Regions from separate parts of the Homo sapiens genome. Here region 2 is linked to region 1. A link means that fine-mapping ties the variant in region 1 to the expression of a gene that starts in the linked region. Tissue or cell type: whole blood. Region 1 holds a variant in brackets; the other region holds the start of a gene. All regions are shown on one strand. Distances are from middle to middle.

What was found. PIP is the estimated chance that this variant, and not a neighbour inherited with it, causes the effect.
Region 2: CTNNA1 starts here. The variant in region 1 is fine-mapped to the expression of CTNNA1 in whole blood (TOPMed, PIP above 0.99).

Annotation. Positions count from the first base shown.
Region 1 is chr5:138,637,730-138,645,833 of GRCh38, reverse strand. No RefSeq gene overlaps it. Among named protein-coding and RNA genes, the nearest start is that of HSPA9, 66 kb to the right of the region's middle. RefSeq lists enhancers at 3,740-3,819, 3,830-3,909, 3,479-4,032, 4,033-4,586. The variant C/T (reference allele first, on the strand shown) is at 4,265.
Region 2 is chr5:138,750,108-138,758,209 of GRCh38, reverse strand. It overlaps CTNNA1 (catenin alpha 1), which reads right to left and starts at 4,785. Exons shown (of 18, transcript NM_001903.5): 1 at 4,700-4,785. CTNNA1-AS1 (CTNNA1 antisense RNA 1) reads left to right here and starts at 4,286. Exons shown (of 2, transcript NR_134244.1): 1 at 4,286-4,687. RefSeq lists enhancers at 3,618-4,184, 4,185-4,752 and a silencer at 4,456-4,895.

The DNA.
Region 1 (8,104 bases):
CGGGATAATATGATGAATTCTTAGGATTTAATAGTACCATATACATCATGTGCTTGCACCAAGACTGGCACTGTGTCAATTTTTTTTTTTTTTTAAAGCGGTTTGGGAGTCTCTCTGAGCCTACTCTGGCTTGGGAGCCTGCCTGATTTAAAAAATAATAATAAATTAAATAAAAAAGAAAAAAAAAGCTGTTAAAGGCTGGGCATGGTGGCTCAGACCTATAATCCCAGCATATTGGGAGGCCAAGGTGGGAGGATCGCTTGAGGCCTGGAGTTTGAGATCAGCCTGGGCAACATAGTGAGACCTCATCTCTTTTTAATTAAAAAATTTTTTTAAAAAGCTGTTAAAATGTTATCATTATTATTACTATTCTGATTTTTATTATCATTGCGTGTGCCTCTGTTTACTTGTCTGTAAGATAGAAATCATGATTAGACCTAATTCAATGAGTAGTTTGCAGATTTCATGAGACAAAACACGTAAAATGCCTTGAACAGCACCTTAGCCATGGGAAGTGTCAATTAATAGGAGTGATCCCTATACTCCCCTCCTTACCCCCACCCCAGGCCTTCAGATTACCTACTGGGGAGCCACCACCAAACTGGCCCAAACTCCCAGTTCCCTAAGTAGTAGGGGCTATGAAAACGAGGTTTCTGGAGCTGTAGTCAGGGAAGCCATTCCTTTTTCCTTTTTTTTTTCCTCCATCCCTGCCCTCTGCGGAAGTCATTCCTAATTGCAATGCCAGTGAACTTCAAAGTCACTCCTGTCTGGGAAGGAGGCTTTGATCTCTGTGCTTCCTCATTTCTGTCTCAAGCCTGAGGTCCCCTGAACAGGCCGATGTCCAGCTAATGCCCAGTGTCCTGGAGAAAAGGAGTAAATGTTCGTTTAGAATGGAAAAAGTTTTGCCCCTATACAGAGGGCCTGGTATCAGGCTTGGGGTGGGGGGACACACAGGAGGATGGATAAGGTCTGCACCTCTTCCAGGTGCCTAAGTTCCCTGTCTTCTGTTGGTCCAGCTGAGGCCTTATTTCAGCAAGGAGATCTGAGATGTGGCTGAGGAGGGTGGACTGCTCCCAAATCCTCACTGCCTTCTCCTCTGAAAATACCAACACTCCTCTGGGCCCTGTCATGCTTTTGACCTTTGAGAGGGATGAAGAAGCTGATTTGCGATGGGCTTTGAACAGATACAGTTTCCTCATCCTTGGCCCTTCCCACAGATGTGCACCTCACTGGTCCATTCCCACACTGGTTTCACAGGTGGGTGTCTCAGGGGTCTGCAGTGTGTGCCGTGATCTGCAGCTGGGAGAATTTAGAGGAAACCTCAGGGAAAACGTCCTTGGTGAAAGAGCTGAGAGACGCAAAGAAAAGGCTACAGGCCCACGCAATTTTCTTCTCTTCAGATTTTCAATCAGAGAAGGCCTCTTCCCTACCCCCTACTGCCCTAGAGAGCTCCAGAGTTAATGCCTCAGTAGGGCTGGGCTGGAGCTGAGGCTGGGTATCCACCCGTAGCTGTCAGGACCCTTAGGGCATTTTAAAAGGGTAGGGCAACCCCACACCACCCCCAAGGCAACCCTGTGGCCCTGTGGGATGAGGTAGACCCCTGAAGTCCTGAGAGTTTCTACAGAGCCAGGCTCTAGGGCAGGGGTGTCTAATCTTTTGGTTTCCCTGGGCTACATTGGAAGAAGAACTGTGTTGGGCCACACATAAAATACACTAACATGGGCCAGGAGCAGTGGCTCATGCCTGTAATCCCAACATTTTGGGAGGCTGAGGCAGGTGGATCACCTGAGGTCAGATGTTCAAGGCCAGCCTGGCCAACATGGCGAAACCCTGTCTCTACAAAAATACAAAAATTAGCCGACATGGTGGCACGAGCCTGTAATCCCAGCTACTCGGGAGGTTGAGAGACGAGGATCACTTGAACTGGGAGGCGGGGAGGTTGCAGTGAGCCAAGATCATGCCACTGCACTCTAGCCTGAGCAATAGAACAAGACTTCATCCCCACCCCGCCCCAAAAAACAAAAAAACCCACTAACACTGATAGCTGTGAGAAAAAAAAAAATCGCAAAAAAATCATGTTTTAAGAAAATTTATGAATTTGCATCGGGCTGCATTCAAAGCTGTCCTGGGCCACATGTGGTCTTGGGTTGGCAAGTTTGCTCTGGGGGAACAGATGACTTGGTCAGATGGAAGGGTGTAGACATAGGGATGACTTGGGCATGTCCCAAGTACAAGTCCACAGACTCCAGACTTGGCCTGTGCCCTCAGCTCTGCTGGCAATGCCTTTGTTGGCAGCCCAGAGGTCCCATCCTCCACACCAGCCACCACACCCAGGACTGCTCCTCATCCTTTGGACAGAGAGAATTTGGAGGTGCTAGAAGCCAAAAAGCCAGCCTTTTCTTTTGGGGCTGTGTAACCTGATACAGGCATCGTACCCCCCACCCCATCCCCCTAAGCCAGTGCTCATGCAGGCCCTGTTACTGGAAGGAGAAACTCCCAAGTGTGGGAGGCTTTGGGGTGACAGGGTGGGGAGGAGGAAGCCCGAAGAAGACAACTGGGAAGAAAGTCCTAACAGTGTCAGCTCCAGGTAAGGAATGTGCTGCACCCTGCCGACCAGCTCAGTACTCTAGGCTCAGCCCATCCCCATCTGATGGGGCCAGGAAGAGTCACAGAGGACTGTGAGATCTGGGAGAAAGAGAGAAAGCCATTTTTTTTTTCATGATGAAGAAGGTGGTGAGCAGGTCATGGGCAATAGCAACACAGATTAACCTGGGAAAAAGTTCTGAAGAAAATTGGGACATTCAGCTCTGCCAAGACAGTCAGACCAGGGTGAGCTACTGGGGGCTGGCAAATGGTCAGGGGTTACACTGTCCCCAGCCTAGGACCCAGCCAGCCTTGGCCGTGGCCCCAGACAAAGACTTGCCCCACTTGCTGATCTCCCAGAGGCAGAGGCCAGATTCCTTCCAGCCCAGGGAGTCTCTGGACAAGTCATAAAAGTGTTTCCTCCAAGTCTCTGTCTGGTCCTGCTAGAAAAAAATTGTCCATCTGTCAGTCTGCAGGTGAGTGGGGCTGGGTGCCGTGACTTACGCCTGTAATCCCAGCACTTTGGGAGGCTGAGGCAGGAGGATTGCTCAAGACCAGGAGCTCGAGACCACTTAAGCAACATAGACCCCACCTCTACAAATAAAAATGTAAAAATTAACCAGGTGTAATGGTGCGTATTTGTAATCCTAGTTATTAGGGAGGCTAAGGTGAGAGGATGGCTTGAGCCCAGGAGTTTGAGGCTGCAGTGAGCCATAATCGTGCCACTGCAAGCTTGGATGACATAGTGAGACACTATCCCTTTTTTTTTTATGGTGTGGGGGGATGGAGTTTCACTCTTTCGCCCAGGCTGGAGTGAAGTGGCGTGATCTCAGCTCACTGCACCCTCCGCCCGCCAGGTTCAAGCGATTATCCAGCCTCAGCATCCCAAGTAGCTGGGATTATAGGTGCCTGCCATCATGCCTGGCTAATTTTGTACTTTTAGTAGAGACGGGGTTTCGCCACGTTGGCCAGGCTGGTCTGGAAATCCTGACCTCCAGTGATCCACCCGCCTTGGCCTCCCAAAGTGCTGAGATTACAGGCGTGAGCCACCACCCCCTATCTCTTAAGAAAGGCCGACGCTATCTCTTAAGAAAGAAAGCAAAGGAAGAAAGAGAACGAGGTGACCGCACCAGTCACCTTCAGATTGATGGATGAACAGACAAAATTTCCGATGTTCCCTGAGCCAGGGCTAAGGCATCAGCCCAGAATCCTCTTCTCGGATGACTCAGGAGCGCCCCCTTCTGTCTGGTTTGGCTGAAACCAGTGTGGGGGGCGGGGAGAAAGAATGATTAAAGTAGATTCTAATCACAATGCCCAAAGACAGCCGCTGCAGGAGCAGGCCCTACCAGAAGGGTCCTCACTTTAGGCTGCCCCCCGATACTGCCACAGCCTGAATCAGAGCTGGACTTCCTCAAGGGGGATCAGGGACCAAGGAGGAGAATGTCTAAAGCGCAGTCGACCTGAGAGGACGCCTAGGCTGTCATACCTGGGCCTGGCAGCCTGGCCTCTGGGCACATGCCTAGAGCTCTGGAGGCCATCCAGCCTGCAGATGTCCCCAGCTTCATGAGAAAAGTCATGGTCTGTGTAGAAAGACCAGGCTCTTCCTCTGAGCCTAAGAAAGAAAGGGCTGAGACAGTCAATTATCTCAGGGCTATGAGTGTGTTGTCGGGGGATCAGCCAG[C/T]CATGGGAAGCACAAGAGGGGAGATGCTGCTTCTCCCCAGCAACTGCCCCCAGAGCCAATGAGACATGTTTCCCAAAGGACCTCCAGCTTCCTGTGTACAGGTGCAGAAGAGACCCGCAGACTCCTCTGGTGTTTAGTTCTAACATTCCATAACCTACAGGATTCTCTCTCCTGGACCATCTGCAGCTGCCCTTTCCCAGTTTATTCGTTAGTCTGATTTTTTTAAATTAATTAATTTATTTATTTGCCATATAGAGTCCACATTGGATCTTCAGTCTGATTTAAATCCATCTTGCTGCATCTGAATGACAGCTAGAAGAGAGGGAGGGGGAAAGCAAAGGGGATGCTGAGAAACTGAGGAGGAGAAAGACAAAACAAGGAGAAGGAGTGGAGAGAGAACTGAAGGAGTGGAGAGAGGAAGACCCGAGCAAGTACCTGAGAGGAGCCATCTGCCCGGTGGAGAACAGCTTCTGCATTGTCCCTAGTCACTCTCCCTGTCAACACTTCATAGCTGCAAGTCCATGCTCGCACTACATGTAGGCGTGGACACACACACATACACACACACATCACATACTTAGGCTGTGGAGAAGGCCTGGCTGTGTGTGGGGCTTGAGGGGCAGTCTGCCCCCTCCTGAATACTTATCTTCTCCTCCTCACACCTCCCCACCCCTCAGCCTTCCAGCACTAGTTCTTTGTGCTTTCAAAGCAGCTCCCTCCCAGAATGCTACCTCCAGGAAGTGCTGAGCTGAGAGAATGGGGGAATGGAAGGAAGGGGAGCTAGTCCTCTTCCCCCGACAGCACTGCTCCATCAAACAGCACCCCCTCCTCCCCTCACCTCCACCTCTTTCATCACTGCCACTGACAGCTGCAAAATCAGCCCTCCTCATCCTGAGCAGTGGACTGCGGGGATGTGTCCGTCTATTTCCTATCCACTTCCTGGGGCAGAAGACAGCTGGGGACGGAGGTAGAGAAGCAGCATCCCCATCCGTGCCAATACCGTCTCCCTCCCTTCCCCCATAAGTAAAGAAAGTCCTCCAGCCAGGCCCTAGAAGTAGCGTGCAGTCACCCCAGCTTTCTAAAATCCCTGTCCACAATGCCCCCGGCCCTGTCCTCCCAAGGTAGACTCTATTTCTCAGACCTTGGAAAGTCGCTCTAGGATATCTCACCCTGAAAGACAGATCCACTCTTGGAATGCTGGGAGACAGTGATGGATTCGCCCACACACTAGCAACCTACTTCCATTAACTTCTATGTCCAAATAATTTCTTTAAATCACAAGGATGAAGCTGGGGAGGGGAAGGCAAGCCTGTGACATCAATCTCCAGCAGGGATTCCTCCTTCAAACCTGGCCAGGGCAAAGCAGGAAAAATACCCAGCACATTCTTCTGGGACAAAACTATGGAAATGAGCCCCCACCCCACCCCGCCACCCACAGTGCCTCTTCTCACCTAAGTTCTTGGCCACCCTCTCCCTTGGTTCTGTGGAAAGACAGCACAGATAGAGGCTTTTCCACCCCTTCCTGGAGGTTTCAGGGCTCCGGCTGCTCCTTGGCAAGGTGCGGGCTGCCTCCTGGGGCATCCCAACCCCCCTAGCAGCCAAGAGAGCATCTCCTGCATGACCAGTGCCCAGGGTGACAGAAAGGGCAGGGCATGAGAAGGATAACTAAAAGCTAAGAGCTGTACCTCAGCTACCAATTTACCATTCCTTCTCAAATTACCCCAATTACTGCCCTCATTTTACAAAGGAGGAAGTGGAGACTTAGAGGGTCTAACTTGTACAAAGCTAGCTGCTAGAAAGGGACAGATCCGAGTCAAGCACAGGTCTTCCATCTCCAAAGTCTGCCTTTAGGGAGATCATGTCCTGGTAGGGAGGGGGGAGCAGGAAGCAGGTGACATTTCAATTGCTTAGTGTTCCCATCTACCCTTGGCTCTGGAACACAGGTTCATCAGCTCAGACCTACTGTTCTAGCCCCAGCCGGGCTTACCCTGCCTGCTGCTAATCCAGCCTCCAGCTGGGAGGTTTGGACATCTTGGGGATGGGCCAGGTGGAGCCTGGAAGGCAGAGGGGACAGAGAAGGGAAGAGCTGGCATTTTGACAGGGCCCAGGAGCAGGCAAGGGGAAGAGAGCTGGGCAGATGGGCCTGAACCGGCCATGTGGGGAGGCTGGGCCTTGAGAAAAGTGTAGGCATAATGGGGCCTGGCTGAAACACGGCTTCACCCAGTTGGCACTTCTTGCTTCCTTCATTGTCCCTATTGCTTTGAATTGTCTGCTTTAGATGTGATTCTTTTCAAATGGGCACCTTCCACCTACAAAGGGACTGGCATGGGGAGAGATTACTGATGTCATAGTCTTCTTCCAGTAGCAACAGCAGGCTAGGGAACTGGCAGCCCAGACCACAACAGGAGCAGTTTGTGATGTTCTGTTGCAGCAGATTGGAGAGGGTTTCCCATGGCTCAGACCTGAGGCTGAGGAACCAGAATAGAAAAGGCAGGAGAGAGGAGGCCCTGAGCTCTTGGACAACCATCGGGCTTGTTGGTGGCCTGGAATACAGGTGTCCATATAGGCTTTCCCCTCCGAGTAGGAGAAAAGTCAGCACTGTCCAGCCCTGTGGCTCTGATGACAGTGGTGGCTTAGTGTGGTGGCTTTGTGTGGTGTCCCCCTTAGAGGTGCTCTACCTCTTCCAGGCTCTGAAGTTCCCATAAACGAGGGGAGAATGAACAAGAACCAGTCACTGGCACTTGATGGTTTCTCTTATGTTGTTTCTCTTATGTTGTTTGCAACCTCCGCCTCCTGGGCTCAAGTGAGCCTCATGCTTCAGCTTCCCAAGTAGCTGGGACCACAGGTGTGCACCACCACACCTGGCTAATTTTTTTGTGTTTTTTGTAGAGATGGGTTTTTGCCATGTTGCCCAGGCTGATCTCAAACTCCTGAGCACAAGCAATCTGCCCACCTCGGCCTCCCAAAGTGCTGGGATCAAGAGTATGAGGCACTGCACCCAATCTGTTTGTTTTTTCTTTTTTTTGAAATGGAGTCTCGCTCTGCTGCCCAGCCTGGAGTGCAGTGGTGTAATCTCAGCTCACTGCAACCTCCACCTTCTAGGTTCAAGCAATTCTCCTGCCTTAGCCTCCTGAATAGCTGGGATTGTAGGCACGCACACCCACGCCTGGCTAATTTTTGTATTTTTAGTAGAGACGGGGTTTCAGCACATTAGCCAGGCTGGTCTGAAACTCCTGGGCTCAAGTGATCGGCCTTTCTTGGCCTCCCAAAGTGTTAGGGTTACAGGCATGAGCCACTGCACCCAGCCTGTTTGTTTTTTCTATAGTCCTTTTTAAAGCATGACTCCATGTCCTTCTGAAGCAGAAACTCACCTCCTGTCTCAAGTGTTTCATTGAGTGGGGGTGGAGTGGGATATCTTTCCTTTCCAGAATCTGGGAGAGCTGCAGTGGTTTGAGTTGTCTAGTGGAACTGCCTTAGTCAGTTCAGGCTTCTATAACAAAATACTGTAAATGGAGTGGCTTATAAACAACAGATTTTTTTTTCTTTTTCTTTTTCTTTTTTTTTTTTTTTGAGAGAGAGTCTCACTCTGTGGCCCAAGCTGGAGTGCAGTGGCGCCATCTTGGCTCACTGCAACCTCTGCCTTCCAGGTTCAAGCAATTCTCTTGCCTCAGCCTCCCAAGTAGCTGGGATTACAGGTGTGCACCACCATGCCCAGCTAATTTTTGTATTTTTAATAGAGACAGGGTTTCACCATGTTGGCCATGCTGGTCTTGAACTCCTAGCCTCAAGTGATCTGCCTGCCTTGGCCTCCCAAAGTGTTGGGATTACAGGCGTGAGCCA
Region 2 (8,102 bases), 110 kb before region 1:
AAAAATAAATAAAATAAATAAAATTAAAATACCAGATTAGCCAGGTGTGGTGGCACATGCCTGTAATCCCAGCTACTTGGGAGGCTGAGGCAGAAGAATCACTTGAACCCAGGAGACAGAGGTTGCAGTGAGCCGACATCACGCCATTGCACTCCAGCCTGGGCAACAAGAGCAAAACTCCATCTCAAAAAAAAAAGAAATAGGAGAAAAAAAGAATATATTACACATAAGCTGAGGACTGCATGGAGAGGATTTCATCAGTGATTAGATCTGGGTGGCAAGGAAGAAGAATGGGCTGTAGATGGTTCTCAGTTTGCCCAAATTTGTTATTGGAGGCCCTCCATAATCTGACTGTTGCCTCATCTGTTATCATTCCATCCACAAGCTAGACTCCAGGCAGAAAAGACTTTTTCCTCCTTCACTCAACAAGCATCTAATTTGCCCTCCATGCCAGGTACTAAGCACCAAGACAAGAACTAAGACTCTCAGTTCCTGCCTTCAAGGAGCTTACAAGGCTCCCTTCCTAGCAGTAAAGGCAAACAGGTACATCAATAATAACGTACAGCATAATGTAATGCACCACCCAGTGCTAAAAAATTTGCTACCAGAAACGAAAGTGCTGAGTCTTAAGATATGACTAAAAGCTCATCATGAAAGGTTATGTTGGGAGAGTAGAAGGGAATCACTGAGGAAGCAACTTTACCCTAGGCCCCCAACATCCAGTCCATTTTCTTTTTTTCTGAGTCAGGGTCTCACTGTGTTGCCCAGGCTGGAGTGCAGGGGCATGATCATAGTTCACAGCAGCCTTGAACTGTTTTTAAATACTGTATGCCTCAGCGGCATTACATATATTCACGATCCATTTCCAGAACTTTTTTCATCTTCCCAAACCGAACTCTGTACCCATAACAATAGCTCCCTATTCCCCTTCACCTGGCCCCTAACAACCACCATTCTGTTTTCTTTCTTTCTCCTTCCTTCCTCCCTCCCTTCCTCCCTTTTTTTCTTTTGTTTGAGACAGGGTCTCACTCTGTCACCCAGGCTGCAGTGTGACATGATCAGAGCTCACTGCAACCTCCACCTCCCAAGCTCAAGCAATGAATCCTACCACCTCAGCCTCCTGAGTAGCTGGGACTACAGAGCGTGTCACCATGCCTGGTTGATTTTTTTTTTTTTAGAGGCGGGGTCTCATAAAGTTGCTCAGGCTGGTCTTGAACTCCTAGCTTCAAGTGATCCTCCCAACTCAGCCTCCCAAAAAAACAGGATTATAGGCATGAGCCTCCCTGTCCAGCCCCAATCCATATTTAAGTCCTGTCTCATTTCTCCAAAATACAGCTCCCTTCATCCCTACCACCTCGTACTCCACCATCTTCCTAGCTCAACTCTCTGCTTCCACATGCACACAAACACAAGCCTTCTCCAAGCACTAGCAGGAGTCTTAAAAAGGAAATCAAATCATGAAACTCCCTACAATGGCTTCTTACACCTCTAGAATAAAACCCCAACATGGCCTCTGCCTTCTCTGGCAATCTCATGTGAGGTCTTCTCCCCACTGAAAAAGTACCCAAGCTATACAAGTCTTCTCTCAAGTCTCTAAACACACGGAGTCTTTCCTGTCTCAGGACCTCTACAAATGCAGAGGGCCCTGTTCCTTCTCTCCATATTCTCACCAGCACACAACACTACCCCCAACAATCAGGGCTGTCTGTTATGCCCCACAGTGAGTTACGTTCTCAAAGAAATCCGAAAGTGCGGTGGCTCACACCTGTAATCCCAGCACTTTAGGAGGCTGAGGCGAGTGGATCACCTGAGGTCAGGAGTTAAAGACCAGACTCACCAATATGATGAAACCCCATCTCTGCTAAAAATTAAAAAATCAGGCTGGGCACGGTGGCTGAAGCCTGCAATCCCAGCACTTTGGGAGGCCGAGGTGGATCACGAGGTCAGGAGTTTGAGACCAGCCTGGCCAACATGGTGAAACCCTCTCTATCAAAAATACAAAAAAATTAGGCAGGCATGTTGGCACACACCTGTAATCCCAGCTCCTTGAGGTTGAGGCAGGAGAGTTGCTTGAACCCAGGAGGCACGGGTTGCAGTGAGCCGCAATTATGCCACTGCACTCCAGCCTGGGAGACACAGCAAGACTATCTCAAAATAAATAAATAAATAAATAAATAAATAAGCCGGGCGTGGTAGCTTGCACTTAGTAATCCCAGCTACTCCGGAGGCTGAGACAGGAGAATCGCTTGAATCCCCAGGAGGTGGAGTTTGCAGTGAACTGAGATCACCTCACTGAACCCCAGCCTGGGCAACACAGGGAGACTCCATCAAAAAAAAAAAAAAAAAAAAAAAAAAAAAAAAAAAGAAGGAAATCCCAAAACCCGGGCAGGGCAGTTACCCTGGATCTCCACATCTGGTTCATGTCTCCAGAAGAGACAGGAGTCCCACTTTGGACACCTTGAGTTTGAGAAGCCTGGGACACCCAAAAAGCTTCCCAATGCACAGGTGACCATGTGGGTCAGGAGACACACCTGCACTCAAAGGCTTGGACTTTTAGCACATAAGGCTGATGACAGAAGAGACTGCACAGAGCAGTGATTCTCATCTTGGAGGAGGGTACCTCTCATCTCTAAGTCACTATATGAAATGAGATATCACTGATGGGAGTGAAGGTGATGCCACATCAGTGGTGTGGAGGACAAAGATACTTTGGAAAGAACCCTGGGTACGAGAGGAAAGAGTGAGGGCGAGGAAAAGAAAGAAACTGAGATGAGTCAAAAGGAAAAGAAAACCAGGAGAGTGATATCACAATTCCCCAAACTCCTATGCCCTTTTATGCTTCTCATGACTTTCTCCCTTCACTTAAAAAAAACTCGACTCATGTTTCATCCAGATCAAATGCCACCACCTCCTGAAAGCCTTTCTGGACTTACCCAAGTAAAACTTATTAGCCCCCTCTCCGTGCCTCTACAAGTTTCTTTTGTTGTTACTATTAGGTAAGATTTGACTCAGACAATAGTTTCATTAGTACTGTTAAGGCACTTACTGCAGTCCGCTCTGTACTACACCTGGGGTGTGTGTCTCCCCTATTACACTGTGAGCTCTTAGGTGGATTAAAAAATTATTCTTTCGCTGAATAAATATCCAGATGGGGTCAGGCACCCTGGCTCAGGCCTGTAATCACAACACTTTGGGAGGCTGAGGCAGGAGGACCACTTGAGCCCAGGAGTTCGAGACCAGCTTGGGCAAGACAGCGAGACACCATCTCTACCAAAAATACAAAAATTAGACGGATGTGGTGGCGCGTGCCTGTAGTCCCAACTACTTCGGAAGCCGAGGTGGGGGGATCACTTGAGCCCAGGAGACAGAAGCCGCAGTGAGTCATGATCGTGTCACTGCGCTCCAGCCCGGGCGACGGAGACCCCGTCTTTAAAAAAAATGTTTGTTCAAAAGTCCAGATTGGTAAATAATTAGGCAGAAACTATAGGTAACTCCTACACTCATTCTTCATTCTTCCTGTAAAACAAAATAACACATCCTAATTAATTCGATTTATAAATTCCGTTCCTTAAAGTAACACCCACCTGTCCAGTATTTAAAAATCACTGCTGACTAAACACAAATATTCGCTCCACAAAATGCCTATCCTGTCCCAACAATGATGTAAGCATTTCCTTCATCATAAATATAAAATGCCCCGAATTTAGTCGTAGACTTGACATATCTCGCTCTTTTCCAAATAATTGTAAATTCTGTACAAAACACACGCACCAAAAAAATGTCACCAAGATGCAAGAGGACGTAAGAGGGAGTCAACCTTGGAACTGGGCCAACCGCCGCCTGCATTACTGGGAAGCCACTGCTGCCAAGCAAAGGTCAGGCATTCATTCAGGCAACATTTTTTCCAACAAGTGCTTCACACTCGCACGCACACACACGCTCCTTTAAAAGTCAACAACAATTAAAAAAAAAAAAAAACCTCTCTAATGCCACTCCTGAAAACTAGGGCTGAAAGCTAAGTGCGTCCAACCGACAAGAAACCCAGGAAAGCTGAGTAATCCCCGAGTCCAAGTGGACGGTCACGCCAAAAGTCCACACGGGTGTGGCCCACCTACGGCGAAGCTGTATGGGAGAAGCCCGGGCTCCAGCCTCCCGGTTCGCCGAGCCCGCGTCCCCGCCGCCCCATCGGGAAGTCTCAGCGGCCGGGAAGGGGGAGGGGGCAGGAACGCCTCGGAGCCGGACGACAATCACTTCCCGGGAAAGCGGCTCCCAGACAAGCCGCCCCAGGGAAGGAAGGCGGCCGAGGGGCCCGGCGCGGGGCTGCCGCGCGCGCCGAGGCCGCGGTAACAAAGTTTGGAAACCGCGAGAAAACTTTTCCAAGAGGAAACGCGGCGGCGGCGCTGGGCCTATAGTTTCTCCTCCCCAGCCCAGGCGGCCCCCCGACTTCCCGAGCGCTGGGAAGCGCCGGCCGTGCCCGCCCGGGCCCCATACTCGGGCCCTGCGGGGGAAGGGACCGCCGGCCCGACGCGGGTCCCACGCCCGCCCGGGGCCCAATTCCCGGCGACGTCGCCAAAGAAACCGCGCCCCGCCCGCTCGCCCGCCCGCGGCTCGCGGGGCCCAGCTTGGGACGGCCCGGCCCAAGGACCCTCTCGGCCTGGCCCGAGAGACCGCGCCCGCGAGGAGGGAGGTACGAAGTTACCTGCGGCTAGCTGGGCGAGCGCTAAATTCCAGAGGCCCGAAGCAGACGGGCGCTGCTTTGTCTCCCTCCAGTCCGGCTAGGAGGAGGAAATGGGCCGCCCCACGCCCCCGCCCCCGGCCCGCCCCCCGCCCGCGGCCCCCGCCCCTGTCCCGGCCCCGCCCGCCCTTCCTGGCACCTCCCTCCGACTCGCTCTTCCCGGCGCCTCCCGCCGCCGCCCCGCCCGCTCCTCCCGGCCGTTCCGGCCTCCGCTTTTGGGGAAAGGGAAGGCCCCCACCGCGAAGAGAGTCTGGCAACGCCGGACCGGGACCCCCGAGGGACCTCTTCCTCCCCGCCGCCCACCTCAGAATTCCTTCCTCCCCGGCCCCTAGTGGGAGCTTAGGCCGGGAGTGACCCCTGAGAGGGAGGAGGAGCGGTGACTCCTGGAACAGCCCGCGGGCGGAGAGGGCTGCGCGAGGGCAGGTGAGTCACCGCTCCGCGCACAGGTGAGGCTCAGGGGCGGCCTCGCGCGGGCCCCCACCCCGGCGGAATCCCAGAGACGCGACCAGGGGTACTGGGCACGCTCCCCTCAAGAGTGTCACAGGTGTCCCGGAGTCACAGTCTTCTGGAAAAGTGATCTAGGCCAACTACCTGGCTTTACAGAAGGAGAAGCGGAGGCTAAGGAAAGGCCCCACAGCTTCGGGACACAGTGGAACTAGAATCTGACTCTCAGGACCTTTCATAATGTGAGGTGGAAGCGCCCCTAGAATTCACCTAACCCGTCCCCTCACTCCACAGATGGAAACACCCGAAGCCCTCTTGATCAAGGACTTTTTTTTTTTTTTAAGACGGGGTCTCCCTCTGTCGCCCAGGCTGGGGTGGAGTGTCGCGATCACGGCCCACTGCAGCCTCAAATCCCTGGACAACCGACCCTCCCACCTCAGCCTCCGGAGTAGCTGGAACTACAGACACAGAGTCTCACTATGTTGCCAGGCTGGTCTCAAACTCATGGGCTCAAGAAATCCTCCTCAGCCTCCCAAAGTGCTGGGATTACAGGCTAGAGCCACCTTGCGGGGAGGACATTTACAAACACAAAAGAGGCACCGCAGCAGCTGTCCCTTTTTGGGCTTGTTCCCGCCCCGCCCCCAGCACGTCCCCCCTCCCAGCTTGTCCCCCTCCTCCAACAAATTTGAGGGACCTGACTTCTATCTCTATTCCTCTGGTCATTTGGGGCATTTTATTCTTACCCTTTCTTATCTTCATAGTGAATACTCCAAAAACAAAAGAAAACAAAATTACAAAGCAAACAAACAACACAAAAAAACAAAAACTACTACATGCTCACTATCATCCTGGTATAGAAAACCCTAATGATGTTTCCCCTGCTCACGGGATGATGAATAAGATAGATTTCAGTATTGGCCTATAAACCTGAATAATGCAAGACGACGATGTCCACTGCTGGCCTTGTGCTGAATAGAGAGCAGGGTGCTAGGGAGACCTGCCCTTACCGTGTTTACCCTCTACTCCTCACATCTCCCTCTCCCCCAAGGGAATATAAACTTCTGGAAAGCAGGAGCTGTATCTCCTGCAGCACCCAGCACATTGCCCATCCCCTAGGGAGTGCCTAGTGAACATCTGTGGGTGAATGTGCCCACTGTAATTCAAAGTACTGTGGGCCTGTGCTAGTTAACAGATGCTGACAAAGGGCAATAGGACCATGAAGTGGGGAGAGAACAACCTTTAAGAAAAAGAGGATGGGCACAGTGGCTCACACAAGTAATCCCAGCACTTTGGGAGGCCAAGATGGGTGGATCACATGAGCTCAGGAGACCAGCCTGGGCAAAATGATAGAACCCTTGTCTACAAAAAAATACAAAAACATAGCTGGGTGTAGTGGCACCTACCTGTAGTCCCAGCTACTTGGGAGGCTGAGGTGGGAGGATCGCTTGAGCCTGGGAGTTCAAGGCTGCAGTGAACCATGACTGCACCACTGCACTCCAGCCTGGGCAACACAGTGAGACTCTGTCTCAAAAAGAAAAAGAAAAAGGCAAACCCTGACAAGGTCATTCTTGTCCAACTACCCCTGTCCTGTTTCTGGCTGCAGGGTCTTTGCTCCTGTAGTCTCCTCTGCCTAGAGTGGCTTTGGCGTCCCTCTACTTCACCTGGCTAACTCAGAACATAATTCATATATTTTGGATATTTGTCCCTGCCCAAATCTCACATTGAAATGTAATCCCCAGTGTTGGAGGTGGGGCTGGTGGGAGGCATTTGGGTAATAGAGGAGGATCCCTCATGGCTTGGTGCTGTCCTCCAGGTACTAAGGGAATTCTCATGAAATGTAGTCGTTTTAAAGTGTAGCACCGGCCAGGCACAGTGGCTCACACCTGTAATCCCAACACTTTTGAGAAGCCAAGGTGGGCGGATAGCTTGAGCCCAGGAGTTCGAGACCAGCCTGGGCAACATGGTAAAAACCCATCTCTACAAAAAAATACAAAAAAATTAGCCAAGCAGGCTGGGCACCGTGGCTCACGCCTATAGTCCCAGCACTTCAGGAGGCCAAAGCGGGCAGATCATCTGAGGTCAGGAGTTCAAGACCAGCCTGGGGCAACATGGTGAAACCCCATCTCTACTAAAAGTACAAAATTAGCAGGGCATGGTGGCATGTGCCTGTAATCCCAGCTACTCGGGACGCTGAGGCAGGAGAATCATTTGAACCTGGGAGGCAGAGGTGGAGCCGAGATCACGCCATTACACTCCAACCTTGGCAACAAAAGCAAAAGTCTGTCTCAAAAAAAAAAAAAAAGCCAGGCATGGTGGTGTGTGCCTGTAGTCCCAGCTACCTGGGGGGCTCAGGTGGGAAGATCACCTGAGCCTGGGGAGATTGAGGCTGCAGTGAGCCATGATTGTGCCACTACACTCCAGCCTGGGCAACGGAGTGAGACCCTGTCTCAAAAACAAAAAGATGTGGCACCTCAGCCCCCTCCTGCTCCTGCTTTCAGCATGTAATGTGCCTGCTCCAGCTTCACCTTCCACCATGAGTAAAAGTTCCCTGAGGCCTCTCCAGAAAGTAGAGCAGATGCCCAGGCCTTGCTTATACAGCCTGCAGAACCATGAGCCAATTAAACGTTTTTTCTTTTTTCTTTTCTTTTTTTTTTTTTTTTGTGTGTGTGTGTCTGTGTGTGACGGAGTTTCACTTTTGTCACCCAGACTGCAACCTCTACCTCCTGGATTCAAACGATTCTCCTGCCTCAGCTTACCAAGTAGCTGGGATTACAGGTGCACACCACCACGCCCGGCTAATTTTTGTATTTTCAGTAGAGACGGAGTTTTACCGTGTTGGCCAGGCTGGTCTCGAACTCTTGACCTCAGGTGATCCGCCTGCCTCAGCCTCCCAAAGTGCTGGGATACAGGCATAAGCCACCGC